3 separate regions of the Homo sapiens genome follow, and all the other regions are linked to region 1. The links come from fine-mapping of genetic effects on gene expression. A gene starts in region 1. Each other region holds a variant in brackets. All regions are shown on one strand. Distances are between the middles of the regions.

What was found.
Region 2: its variant is fine-mapped to the expression of PIGK in blood mononuclear cells (TOPMed, PIP above 0.99). The same link has a PIP of 0.9 or more in skeletal muscle.
Region 3: its variant is fine-mapped to the expression of PIGK in whole blood (INTERVAL, PIP above 0.99).

What each region holds. Positions count from the first base shown.
Region 1 is chr1:77,217,348-77,221,347 of GRCh38, reverse strand. It overlaps PIGK (phosphatidylinositol glycan anchor biosynthesis class K), which reads left to right and starts at 1,918. Exons shown (of 11, transcript NM_005482.3): 1 at 1,918-2,038. The coding sequence starts at 1,946. It overlaps LOC105378808 (a long non-coding RNA gene), which reads right to left and starts at 1,828. Exons shown (of 3, transcript XR_001738109.2): 1 at 1,695-1,828; 2 at 355-560. RefSeq lists an enhancer at 2,125-2,234.
Region 2 is chr1:77,121,835-77,125,834 of GRCh38, reverse strand. It overlaps PIGK (phosphatidylinositol glycan anchor biosynthesis class K), which reads left to right. Exons shown (of 11, transcript NM_005482.3): 10 at 3,476-3,560. Among named protein-coding and RNA genes, the nearest start is that of MIR7156, 64 kb to the right of the region's middle. The variant T/C (reference allele first, on the strand shown) is at 1,796.
Region 3 is chr1:77,096,595-77,100,594 of GRCh38, reverse strand. The region is part of intron 10 of PIGK (phosphatidylinositol glycan anchor biosynthesis class K); the gene reads left to right. Among named protein-coding and RNA genes, the nearest start is that of MIR7156, 38 kb to the right of the region's middle. The variant C/T (reference allele first, on the strand shown) is at 2,292.

The DNA of each region.
Region 1 (4,000 bases):
GTGTGAGCCACTGCACCTGGCCTCTGATGGTTTTATAAAGGGTAGTTCCTCTGCACATGCTCTCTCACCTGCTGCCATGTAAGATGTGCCTTTGCTCCTTCTTCATCTTCTACCATGATTGTGAGGCTTCCCCAGCCATGTGGAACTGTGAGTCCACTAAGCCTTTTTCTTTAGAAATTATGCAGTCTTGGGTATTTCTTCATAGCAGTATGAAAATGGGTTAATACAAGTAAAGTCTCATCAAAGTGTGGGTATGAAGTTACATCTGGTCATGAATTTGAGGCATAATCATTAATCTTGTCAGACATTATCTTATGTACAGGAAGAGGCAAGGGCTAGGATCACCAAACTTACCTTTTGTAAAAATTCAGTGATTCAGGCAAGAGATGTGCAAACCTATTCCCTATCCTGCTTATGGTCTTCAAGGCATTCTTCCACAAGGCTGCTCACAGTCAATGAGTCAGGGGCTTTGTGAAATATTGCTGGCAAAGGAGCAGAATGAGCAAATGGCTTCTTATCTTTGCTACTTTGTTTCATAATCATCAGCATCCAATAGATATCTGTTGAATTAATGAATACATGGAAGATATTCTGGCAGTGTATTTACTTTCTAGGATTCACGTAACGGAAAACCTAAATTTGACTAAATAGCATGAAACCTCTCACAAAGTGCAATAGCAAAAGAAACAAATAAAAGGAAAAGAGAGACAAGAGAATGGGAAAAGCAATAGCATAAAATATGGCAAAGGCTAATGTTACTTATTTATAAATATATTATTCAAATTCATATGCAAAACATAAATATATAAACAAAGAATTTACATCAGAGGACACAGAGATAGTTTAGAAACACAAGAAAGACATCAGATCTTGATAGTAACCAAAGAATTATAAGTATAGTTACCTAGGGGTAACATTTCATACCAAAGAATTTAAAGGAAAAAAAATGGTATGGTTTGGTGTTGTGTATTCTGATAGTGCTGTAAGCTTGTTCATTTTGGAAAGCAACATCATTTATAGTTATTAAAATGTTTTGGAATATTTTGACCCCAAATTCCTAGTTCAGGAAAATTATACAAACAAAATAATTCAACAGATTTAAAAAGCCAAACACACAAAAGATACTCTTTACAATATTATTTTCATAGTAAAACTTAAAAACTTTGCATTGTGCAGCAGAGGGACAATTACTTTGGCTGAGGCATCAATAATGGATGGAATTTTATCTCACCATTAAATGTTAAAATTGTGAGGAAGCAGCGTGGAAACGTTTATGTCATACTAGATGAAATGCATAAATTAAAACTGAACTCACATAATAAAGAGAATGGTGGACCATACATATACACCAGCTGTGTCTCTTCCAGATAGGCTTTAGTTCCATAATTACAGAAGATACTCAAGAAACAAAAACGTAACTAGCTTCCCATGTTAATCCTTTCACCAGGTAGTAGACCCCAAGCCTCTAAATTGCAGCGCCCACCCACATTTTCCATTTATAGTTTATCCAATTAATCATCTTTTTGTGCCAAAACGCTTGTTCTTCCCACCACATCCAGCTTCATATTTTCAAAGAATTGGCAGCACTCGGCAAAATAAATAAATAAATAAATAAATAAATAAATAAAATAAATAAGGGAACAGAGAAATAAGTTTTTAAAGTTTAAGGAGTTACGGGTTTTCCCTCCACTCACCTTTCAATTTTTTTTCTTAAATGTTATACCTATTTTACAACCTCCAAACTGAAAATGCAGTTAAAAATAAAAAGGTCAATATCCTGCGTCTACCTTGTCCCGGACTCTCGAGCTCCACAAAACCGCAGAGTTCTAAAGCCGGACCAGAGGGCCACCTCGAAGAGGCGCGGATGGTGTCGCAAAAACCCGCAGCGCTACTTTACGGCACTGCCTCCGCCCCTTCAGGTGCGGGAAGTCTGAAGCCGGTAAACATGGCCGTCACCGACAGCCTCAGCCGGGCTGCGACTGTCTTGGCAACTGTGTTGCTCTTGTCCTTCGGCAGCGTGGCCGCTAGTCATATCGAGGTAGGAGTCAGGCTCATTTGACCACAGCCGGGAGGCCGGCTGTGAGCCCTCCAGCAGATGTCCGATACACAGTAGCTGAGGGACGCCTCCTGGAGTCAATCAGCCCCTGACCCAGGCTGGGTTTGAGGAGGGTATCACTGGGCACGGGTTAGGACACTGTTGGTCTGTTTCAGCGTTTTAAAACGATGAATTGAAATAATCAAACCCTCGGAGACAGAGGAGGACCTGATCCTTTGCTCCTACATGTGTGCAGTTCTTAGGTGAAATACGAGCAAGAGGCTCGTGAAATGTCAGTGTGCAGCAACTGCTTTCCTACTACTCAACTGCAGCCCTCTGTTTTGATAGGAGTCAGACGGAACTGGAGAGATGAGGGCAATTTTAAGAATCCAGATAATAGAATTTAGTGATAATTAGAACATGGGATAAATATAAGTGTTTATTAAAACTCTCAAGTTTCTGGCTTAGGGGCAACACGTCTGGGTTAAGAAATGGAAGAGAAAAGGGGTGCTTAGTTTTATCCTGGGCTCCTCCAGCTTCCCATTTTTAAACGTGGACACAGGATGTTCTGGTGCTCTATAATGCTTTTACTATTCACCATACTCTGATGATTCCTCAGTCCCGGTCTACAATCTAGATGTCTGGTATCTTTTTCAGGCCTGCATATCCAGCTGACTAAGAATCCGGGATAGTCAGGAGACATTTGAAAATCCGTGTGCAAAGTTTTATCTTCTGCTTATCCTACCTCCTCTTAAAAAGACACTGAAAAACTAAGCACCCCTTTTCTCCTCCATTTCTCAACCAGATGTGCTGCTCCTAAGCTAGAAACCTGAGAGTCTTAATCTCTTTATCCCATATTCTAATTATCACTAAATTTTGTGATCTGAGTTCTTAAAATTGCCCTCACCTCTCCAGTTCCACTGACTTAATTCAGGCTGTGATCACTTCTTGTCTAGACTCTTGCGATTACTTTATCTTGTTTTCCATAGGCCTCCATACTCCCTGAGTTTGGTGCTAGATTCGTCTACACGAAATGTAAGCCTGATCAGGTTATTCTTCTGATGAAATCTTTTAAATATTTATTAATTGCATACAGAATAAAGTCTAAACGTTATGACCTGGTGCTTGCCTACTTTTCCAGTGTTCCATATTGGAACCTCTTCTCCCCACCACCTGGGCACCTTGAGCTTAGACCAGTGGACTCCAAACTTTTTGAATACACACCCTATCAGTTAAAAAAAGATATTGAGCATGAACTTCATATATATTTATGAATTACTGTTAATTTATATATTTGATGTTTATATAGCATAATTTTTAGAGAACATAAATATGAGTAAATAGAAGTTCTGTTTCCCTCCTTTATTCTAACTTTGACTGCTTCATCTTGGATACTATTACTGTTTTTTGTAGTTACATAATTGCTGTGCTTTTTCACATTACAATATTTTATACATTGTGTTTCCTCTGTTCATGTGCTAAGATACAGTAAAGGCATAACCTCTGTAGAACGTTTCCCTATCTCTTACCTTTGCCTTTACTCTTGTAATTTGTACACTTGATACAGCACTCATTTACTATAACCCGTGTATGGTTTGTACTGTTATTCCATCATATCTCACTTAGAGATAGGAGCAACAGTTTCCTAAATGTTTTGCCTTGAGTCGTTGTTTTTTCCTTTCAATCTGTTCTCCAAATTGAAGCCAGAGTAACTTTTAAAAATGCAGTTCCAATCATGTCACCCAGGGACCTTGATGTTGCTCAAAAGATCACCTTAATGTTGCTCTAAACTCTCCACCATGACCCACAAACAAAAACCCTGCATATTTTTTGGGCCCTGACTACACTTCAAATTTTTTCTTTCTCTTTCAAACTTCTAGTTAGGCTAACTTTCTTTCAGTTTCTCAAAACCTTTAAGCTTTTTCTCACATTAGAGCTGTCTCCCCTCTGTCTGGAATTGTATTT
Region 2 (4,000 bases), 96 kb after region 1:
CTTGAACTAGGAAACAAGTGGAAAATTAACAGATATGGTATTTAAAGTTATAATAAAACTTTTTTTGAAATAAAATGAGATCTGAATTTCCATATTGAAAGGACTCCTGTTTCCTGTATACCTGGGAAACTTGATTTATAACAATCAACTTTTAAGATATAGTATTAGACCTTAAAACAAAAGGGAAAATAAAAGCTGCCTGAGCTTCTAAGCCAATAAATTAGTAATTTAAAAATTAAAAGTAATTAAAAATGAAAATAATTAACATAGAACCAATTTAGCATCACACTTCTTGATATCAAAATAAAGCAAGAAAGCAATGGACATGTGTTTTTAAGAAATTATAAAAATGAGTAATCATTTTAATTGATTATGAAACACTGGATAAGTAAAATACTCATATATCCACAGTGATACTCAAGATTACTTGTGAATTGCATTTGGAAAAAGTGCTGCTGTTATTAAGAAACATTTCAGACATATCCTTGGTTGATAAACATTTTGCTGAAATATTTAGATGTGAACTGTCATGGTATCTGCAGCTCACTTTTAAATGTTTCCGTGAAAATAATATAAAAAATACAGAAACATGTTTGGAATTTTTCATAACAGCTACATGGCATTTTAAAAAGTTATTCAAAACAAGTTGCCAGATTTCAAATATTTTTGTATACCTAAAGAATATCTTTTATATTGAGTAAGAGACATTTTGTGAGAAAAAAATGTATTTCATCTTGTTTTAGATTTTTGGAAGAGCCAATGAAGAGTGACTTTGTCATATTTCTTTTATACTCTTAGAATTAATGTCAGTGATTTAATTTTTATTTTTTCAGAAGATATTTATTAAAACTGCTGGTGCCTTAACAGGAATCAAGGCACTGGAATCAAACTGCACAAGTGGTCACTGTATTCTTCCCACCATTGACCACAGTAGAAAAGAAACAAACAAAAATACATCATTTGCACTTAAGAATGTCCTTGATAAGGAAGGAAAAATATTGAGTTGTTCGCTTTTTTATTCTTGAGTTGTATTTATGCATTCTTAATACAAGTCCCTTTTTGGTTATATGATTTGCAAAAAGTTTCTCCCATTCTGTAGACTGTTTTTTCATTCTGATTGTGTCCTTTGAAACAAAGGAGTCTTGAAATTTGATGATGTCTATACAGTTTGTCTGCTTTTTCTTTTGTTGCTGCGTGTGTGTGTTTTTTTTTTTGTTGTTTGTTTGTTTTGAGACTCTTGCTCTGTCTCCCAGGCTGGAGTGCAGTGGCGCAGTCTTGGCTCACTGCAACCTCCATCTCCCGGGTTCAAGCAGTTCTCCTGCCTCAGCCTCCCAAGCAGCTGGGACTACAGGTGCGCACCACCATGCCTGGCTAATTTTTGTATTTTTAGTAGAGACGAGGTTTCACTGTGTTGGCCAGGCTGGTCTCGAATTCCTGACTTCAAGAGATGCACCCGCCTCGGCCTCCCAAAGTGCTGGGATTACAGGCGTGAGCCACTGTGCCTGGCCTGTATGTGTTTTTTATACATAATGTAAATAAACTTTTAAAAGATACACTGTGAAATGCTTTAAAGCAAGTTGTGTTTTTTTTTGGTCAATGAGTATTTACTTTAGTTTATTTTTTAATTGAGGTAAAAATATCTAATGCTAATAGATATTAGTTTGCTAGGGTTGCCATAACAAAATACCAGAGACTGGATGGCTTAAACAACATAAATGTATTTCCTCACAGTCTGGAGGCTAGATGATGTCAGCAGGATTGATTTCTCCTAAGGTCTCTCTCCTTGACGTGTAGA[T/C]GGCCATTTTCCTCTAGTGTCTTCATGTGATCTTTACTGTCTCGGTGTCCTGCGCTCCTCCTCTTATAAAGATACCAGTCATATTTGAGTAGGATCAACCCTAATGACCTCATGTAAGCTAATTACTACTTTAAAGACCCTGTCTACAAATACAGTCACGTTCTAAGGTACTGGTGGTTAGGCTTCAAAATGTGAATTTTGGAGTTTGTTGAAGGGCACAATTCAGCCCATAACAAATACATAACATAAAACGTATCATTTTAATCATTTTTCAGTATACACTTTAGTGGCATTAAATACATTTATATTATTGTGTAACTATCATCCCCCCATCCATCTCCAGAACTTTTTTCATCTTGCGAACGGAACCTCTATCTGTTAAACAATTACTCCCCAGTGTCCCCTCCTCCCAGCTCCTGGCAGCCACCATTCTGCTTTCTGTCTCTGTGAAACATGTTTTGAGGCAGTTTTTTTTTTCCATCATTAGTGAGAATCTTCAGAGTTCTCTCAAATTAAGCTAGTTATTTTTATGCAAATTCTGCAAGATATCCACAAACTTTTACCTAGATAAGAGGTTCTTGAAGCTCTTAAATCATATGAAAATTTTGTCTTTTTTTGTATATCTGCCTTTTTCATGGGAGAGATTCTAGAGTTCTCATTAGATTCCTTAACTGAAGCCCTAGAGACTTAGCCAATCTTGTTTCATTTATTTTTCAAGATAATTAAAGTTTAGTAATTTTTAAGTTGATAAGCTGATGTGTAATTCACAGAAAAGGCAAAAGGAAGTTTAAATGTTTTTAGGTTTTATTGTCTTGAAATCAAATGTTTACTTGCTATTTCTGAAAGGGTCAGTAATTTTAAAAATCATTATACTACATTTTCTTCATTTGAAAAGTTTTTAAATTTACTGTTTCATATTGTCCTAGATATGGATTATATCAGCTTTGTATCTCATTGTACATGTAGATATTAGAAATATTGTCTATATAAAATAACCTCTCAGAATTATTTTTATTTCATTTTATTCATATATTTATTATTCAGTCAATAAACATTTGAGTCTTTTTGATAAATATTAGATATACAAAGAAGAAGACATGGGTTTCATCTTCAAGGAAGTGAAAATAATATACCTAGATGGCGATAAACAAATTAATATATTAAAAAGAAGAATAAATAAAGAAGAGAATTGTTGGTTGGTCCAAACAGATATAACAGCACGGGGAAACTGAGAGACTCCTGGAGGTGCAAGTCCCAATGGGGTTTGGCCAGTAGTTAAATATAACTAAAACAGTAGACTGTTAAATAGAGAAAGGGTTGCTGGAGATGAGGCTTGAGTTTGGTTGGAGCCAGGTTTTGAAGACCTTTAAGTGCTATGAAAGAAACACCCTCTTTTGGACAGAGAATTCTGAAACATTTTTGTCTCAGAGAAAGACAGGATCTGAGAACATTAAGTGATGCTAGCTCATTTTATTGCATAGTTACTTAATGTAGTCTGAATACTTCTATAGTCATTTAAAATTTTTCAATGGTAGTGTTTCAAAGATTATTGATAAATACTGATTATTTCAAAAAAAATCTATGCATTTTACTATATTTCATATTTGACATATTTAAATATTTGCTATATTTCAAAATAGTATTTGCCTTAGCTCTGTGTTTTTAAATTATCTTTTCCAGCTATAAGGAAGACCAGATGGATGAGAAACTAATGGAACCTCTGAAATATGCTGAACAACTTCCTGTAGCTCAGATAATACACCAGGTTTGCATTTCATTTTATTCTTTTGAAAGAAACAAGATTTTTAATCGCTGAGAAGTAATTGCTTTTGTTAGGTTTTTCAGAATCAATGTGCTATAGCTGAAAGGCATTCTGGGCTGTCTATCCCTATTTAGACTACCCCTATTACAGTTGAAAGTCCCATTCAAAGCACAATATTAAAAGGCTACTTGCTGTTTAACACTAGAATTCTTACTTACATAAAATATGGGATAAAATAAGGATTATCTTTTGTGCATTATTTAATTATAAAATTTAATTTCAGAAAACTTTCATTTTGACCCATTGTGTATAGTACTTAGTGACAAGGAAAAAGAGCTGCAAAAATATCATTGAGAGTAATTTTTTGGAGTCACTAAAAAGAGAAAACAATCTTGCCCTGCATCCTTTACCCTGCCCAATCATCAACCCTTGCAAAGTATAAT
Region 3 (4,000 bases), 120 kb after region 1:
TTATATCCTCAGAATCCCTCATATGCCATATAATTCAGCCTAATCATAGGAGTGATAGTGCATCATATTCACAGGTCTTGTCCAGACTCAAGGGATAGGTATTATATAGGGCATTTATCCCAGGTTGAGGGAATCTTAGAAGCTGTCTTACATTCTGCCTACCACAGTTTGACTTACACTATTAATATAATTAGAGAAATACAAATTGCATTTTATATAAAGGATATAGATAGACTGGAAATACTAATAAACCACCACTAATTAAATAGTTGAACACAGCTATTTTCTGAAATAATTATAACTATAACCTTAGTAGATTGTTTTATACTTTCTGTCCTTAAAATACAATTTAACTGAACTCATATGCTCATTATACATTTAAGAATCTCATTGAAACCTTGGAAATTTTCCATTTGCTTCCCAATAAATGTGTACAGTTTTCAAAATCCTAAGTTTTTTCTTTTTACATAATTTTAATACTTAGATCTGTGCTCTGTTAACTATTTTTAAAGTTATGTGGTAATGTTCTCCTAGCAACATGGAGGGGGAAACTGAGTACTATTCGCAATTGGAAGTACAGTGTTGCTTAGCTACCTCTCTTTTAAATTTGAAATATTAAGGCATTTCAATAAGAGGGTAGCCCTTAAGCTTTTAAGTGTTTGCTTATAACATATTGCCGTGTTTTATGTACGCTTTTCACCTTTGTATTGTAACTTATTGTGAAAGTTTAAAAAAAGAGGAGTGCATTTAATGGCAGTCACTAGAGTACCTTAATACATAAAGTCAGTCATTTTTTTAAGAAGCTCTAATGGACACAAATGAAATTACAAGATATGCTTTAATATGAACTTACCTCAAATGCAGTTATACTGCCAAATGCAATAATTATACCAATTTTGTCACTTGATTGTAAGTAAAATCATTGTAAAATGTCTAAAAGGTTACATATAGTTGTTTTAAAAATAGCATTGTTGTCATATGTCAGCGATATCATTAAACACATACTGAAAAAGCACTTTATTACATTATGTTGCTGTAATGCTATCCGGGTTACTTTTTCTTAAAGTTGGACATCAGTAATAAACAGTGTTGCTGCAGTGTTTCTCCTATTTGGAAAGGAATATATGAAGATTCTTCTAGGTGGAGTCTTTCAATACAGATTTTTGCTGCATAATCCAATTTCTCCCCAAAATAACTAAAGTAAGACATACTCATTGTAGAAAACATTTTCAAAAGCTTAGGTAAGTATAGAGAAGAGATTTAAAGCCAACTGTATTCCTGCTTCCCCCAGAAAAACACTAAGACTTTAGTATGTTTCCCTTCTTTGAATATTGTTATAGGAAACATCATATTTCAGATTCAATTTGCATCTTGTTTCCATTTTACTATTTTAGTATAAGCATCTCCAAATCATTAAAATTATTTGAAAATATTTTTATTGATTAATATGTGGATGTACAATGTTTCCTGTATTATGTGACTATAGATTCCTTCCTGTTTTTTATTATGTAGCCACTGAGAAGAAAACCTTTGTGAGCGTTTCTGAATTCCTTAATATAGATCCTAGAAGTGTTACAAATCCTAGGAATTAGAGTAAATGAATATTTTAAAGACCTCTAAACATGTTAATGGGTTATTTTCCAGAAAAGTTAACTGTCCTTATTAACATTTACTGGTTTAATTGTAAGAAGAGAAAGAAATACTTAATATATTGTGTTTATGATGAAGAAAAATGATTTTTTTCAAGTGTTAGCCATTTGTAATTATTCTTTTGTGAAAATATTTCCCTGTTCCATTTATTGATATACCCTTGTGTCTTACTGATTTGCGGGAGACCCTCATGTATTGAATTTATCCCCTTTTCTGTCATAAATTCCATTTATGTGCCTTTTAATTTGATTTCTATACATTTTGAAATACAGATCTTTCCAAAAACTTTTGTAAAAATACCTTTGCAGCCAGGCGTGGTAGTTCACCCTGGTAATCCTAACACTTTAGGAGGCCAAGGTGGGTGGAGGATTGCTTGAGCTCAGGAGTTTGAGACCAGCCAGGTCAACATGGCAAAACCCTATCTCTGCCAAAAATACAAAAATTAGCCAGGCATGGTGGCATACACCTGTAATCCCAGCTACTTGAGGGAGGTGTTGAGGCAGGAGGATCACTTGAACTTGGGAGATTGAGGAGTCTGCAGTGAGCTGAGATAATGCCACTGCACACCAGCCTGTGTGACAAAGACCCTGTCTCAAAAAAAAAAAAATTTCCTCCACCTTCTCTTTATTTTCACTCACTGC[C/T]TTTAGGCTTATTAATAGCCTTATCGTACAGATTCTCCTACATTTTATCTCTTTTTTTTCTTCTTCTATTTTTACATTTAATTCTGAACCATGTAAAGTGTGTTTTTGTTTACAGTGTTGGGTTAGGAACAAAATTGATTTTGTTTCCAAATGCTAATCCATTGTTTACAGCACCAGTAGGACTACTATTCCCTTTCCCACTGATCTGTGATAGCCCTTTTATAATATACTAAATCCTGGGATACTGGACTGATTGTCTAGTTTCTATTCTGTTTTATTCGTCTTTCTACACTTGCATTGGAATCACATTATTGTTTAGCGTTATATATATTTTTTAATATTTCTGACTGTTTACCCCTCTCTGTAGAGTAATGTAGATTGTTTACCTTACATCTCATGTTATGGGTATTCATAGTTTTTTTTAATTGTTATTGTGAATGACATTTTTTTCTATTTTCTGACTCATATTTGCTGACATACTTGAAAGATAATGATTTTTTAAAATATTTATATGAAATCCGAGCCCTTTATTCTCAATAATTGTAAGAATTGATTTTATGGAGCTTTTTGATATCTAATAATCATATCTATGAGTAATGAAAATTTACTTTCCCTTCCTACATGTTATGTCTGGATTGGCTAGAAATTCCAGAGTAATGTTAACTAATAATGTTAACAATGGGTGTTCTTATCACAGGAAAGTTAAAATCACGATTAAGGAAAAACTGTGGTCATCTTTCAATTAAAACCCAAATCATAGTTGAAAACAAATCATCCTTAATTTTCTAGATTACATTAACTGCCTTGCACATTTATCATGGAAAAAGGTACATAAAGATCTTGGGTAGTGTGCATTTCTCCAGCACGGGCGCAACATGTGATTACCTCTAATTGGTAACTTTAAAGGGAAGAGGAACCAAACTTCAGATCTAGACTTCAGTTGGAAGATGCCTAAAGGGAAGCTAGATGAGTTAGTTTCTAGATTCCCCTGTGTCACCGTCATTTCCTTGAAAGCAATTCCTGGCATGGTGGCAGTTGGAGTTTCTCTCTTTCCGGAAGACTATAAAGGAGAGCTAGAGGAGAGCAGCACTGCATCTCCACTAAACTGAGGGCTTGATTTGCTGCCCGTCATGCTGTTCTTATGCCATTGTTAGAAAAACCCGAAGCTTTCCAATTTCATCCATGTCCCTACAAAGGACATGAACTCATCATTTTTTATGGCTGCATAGTATTCCATGGTGTATATGTGCCACATTTTCTTAATCCAGTCTATCATTGTTGGACATTTGGGTTGGTTCCAAGTCTTTGCTATTGTGAATAATGCCGCAATAAACACATGTACCCTAAAACTTAAAGCATAATTAAAAAAACAAACAAAACAAAACAAAACAAAAAAACAAAAAAACAAAAAAAAAAAAAAAAGAAAAACCCGAAGCTACAAGTATGGAGATGGGAACTTTTTCTGTTTTGTTATGGTGATAAAGGATCAGGGTTTTTCTTTTCTTCACGTTGTCACCGCTGTGGATGTATTTCATAACTTTTGATGTATCATGAACCACTCCAAACTTAGTAATTTAAAACATCAGTCATTTATTTAGCTCACAATTCTGCAAGTTGGCAATTTAGGATGAGTTTAGCTGGGCAGTTGTGTTCTCAGTTAGGCTCCGTCATGAGTCTGTGGTGTGGTCAACTTGATTAGTAAGATGGTT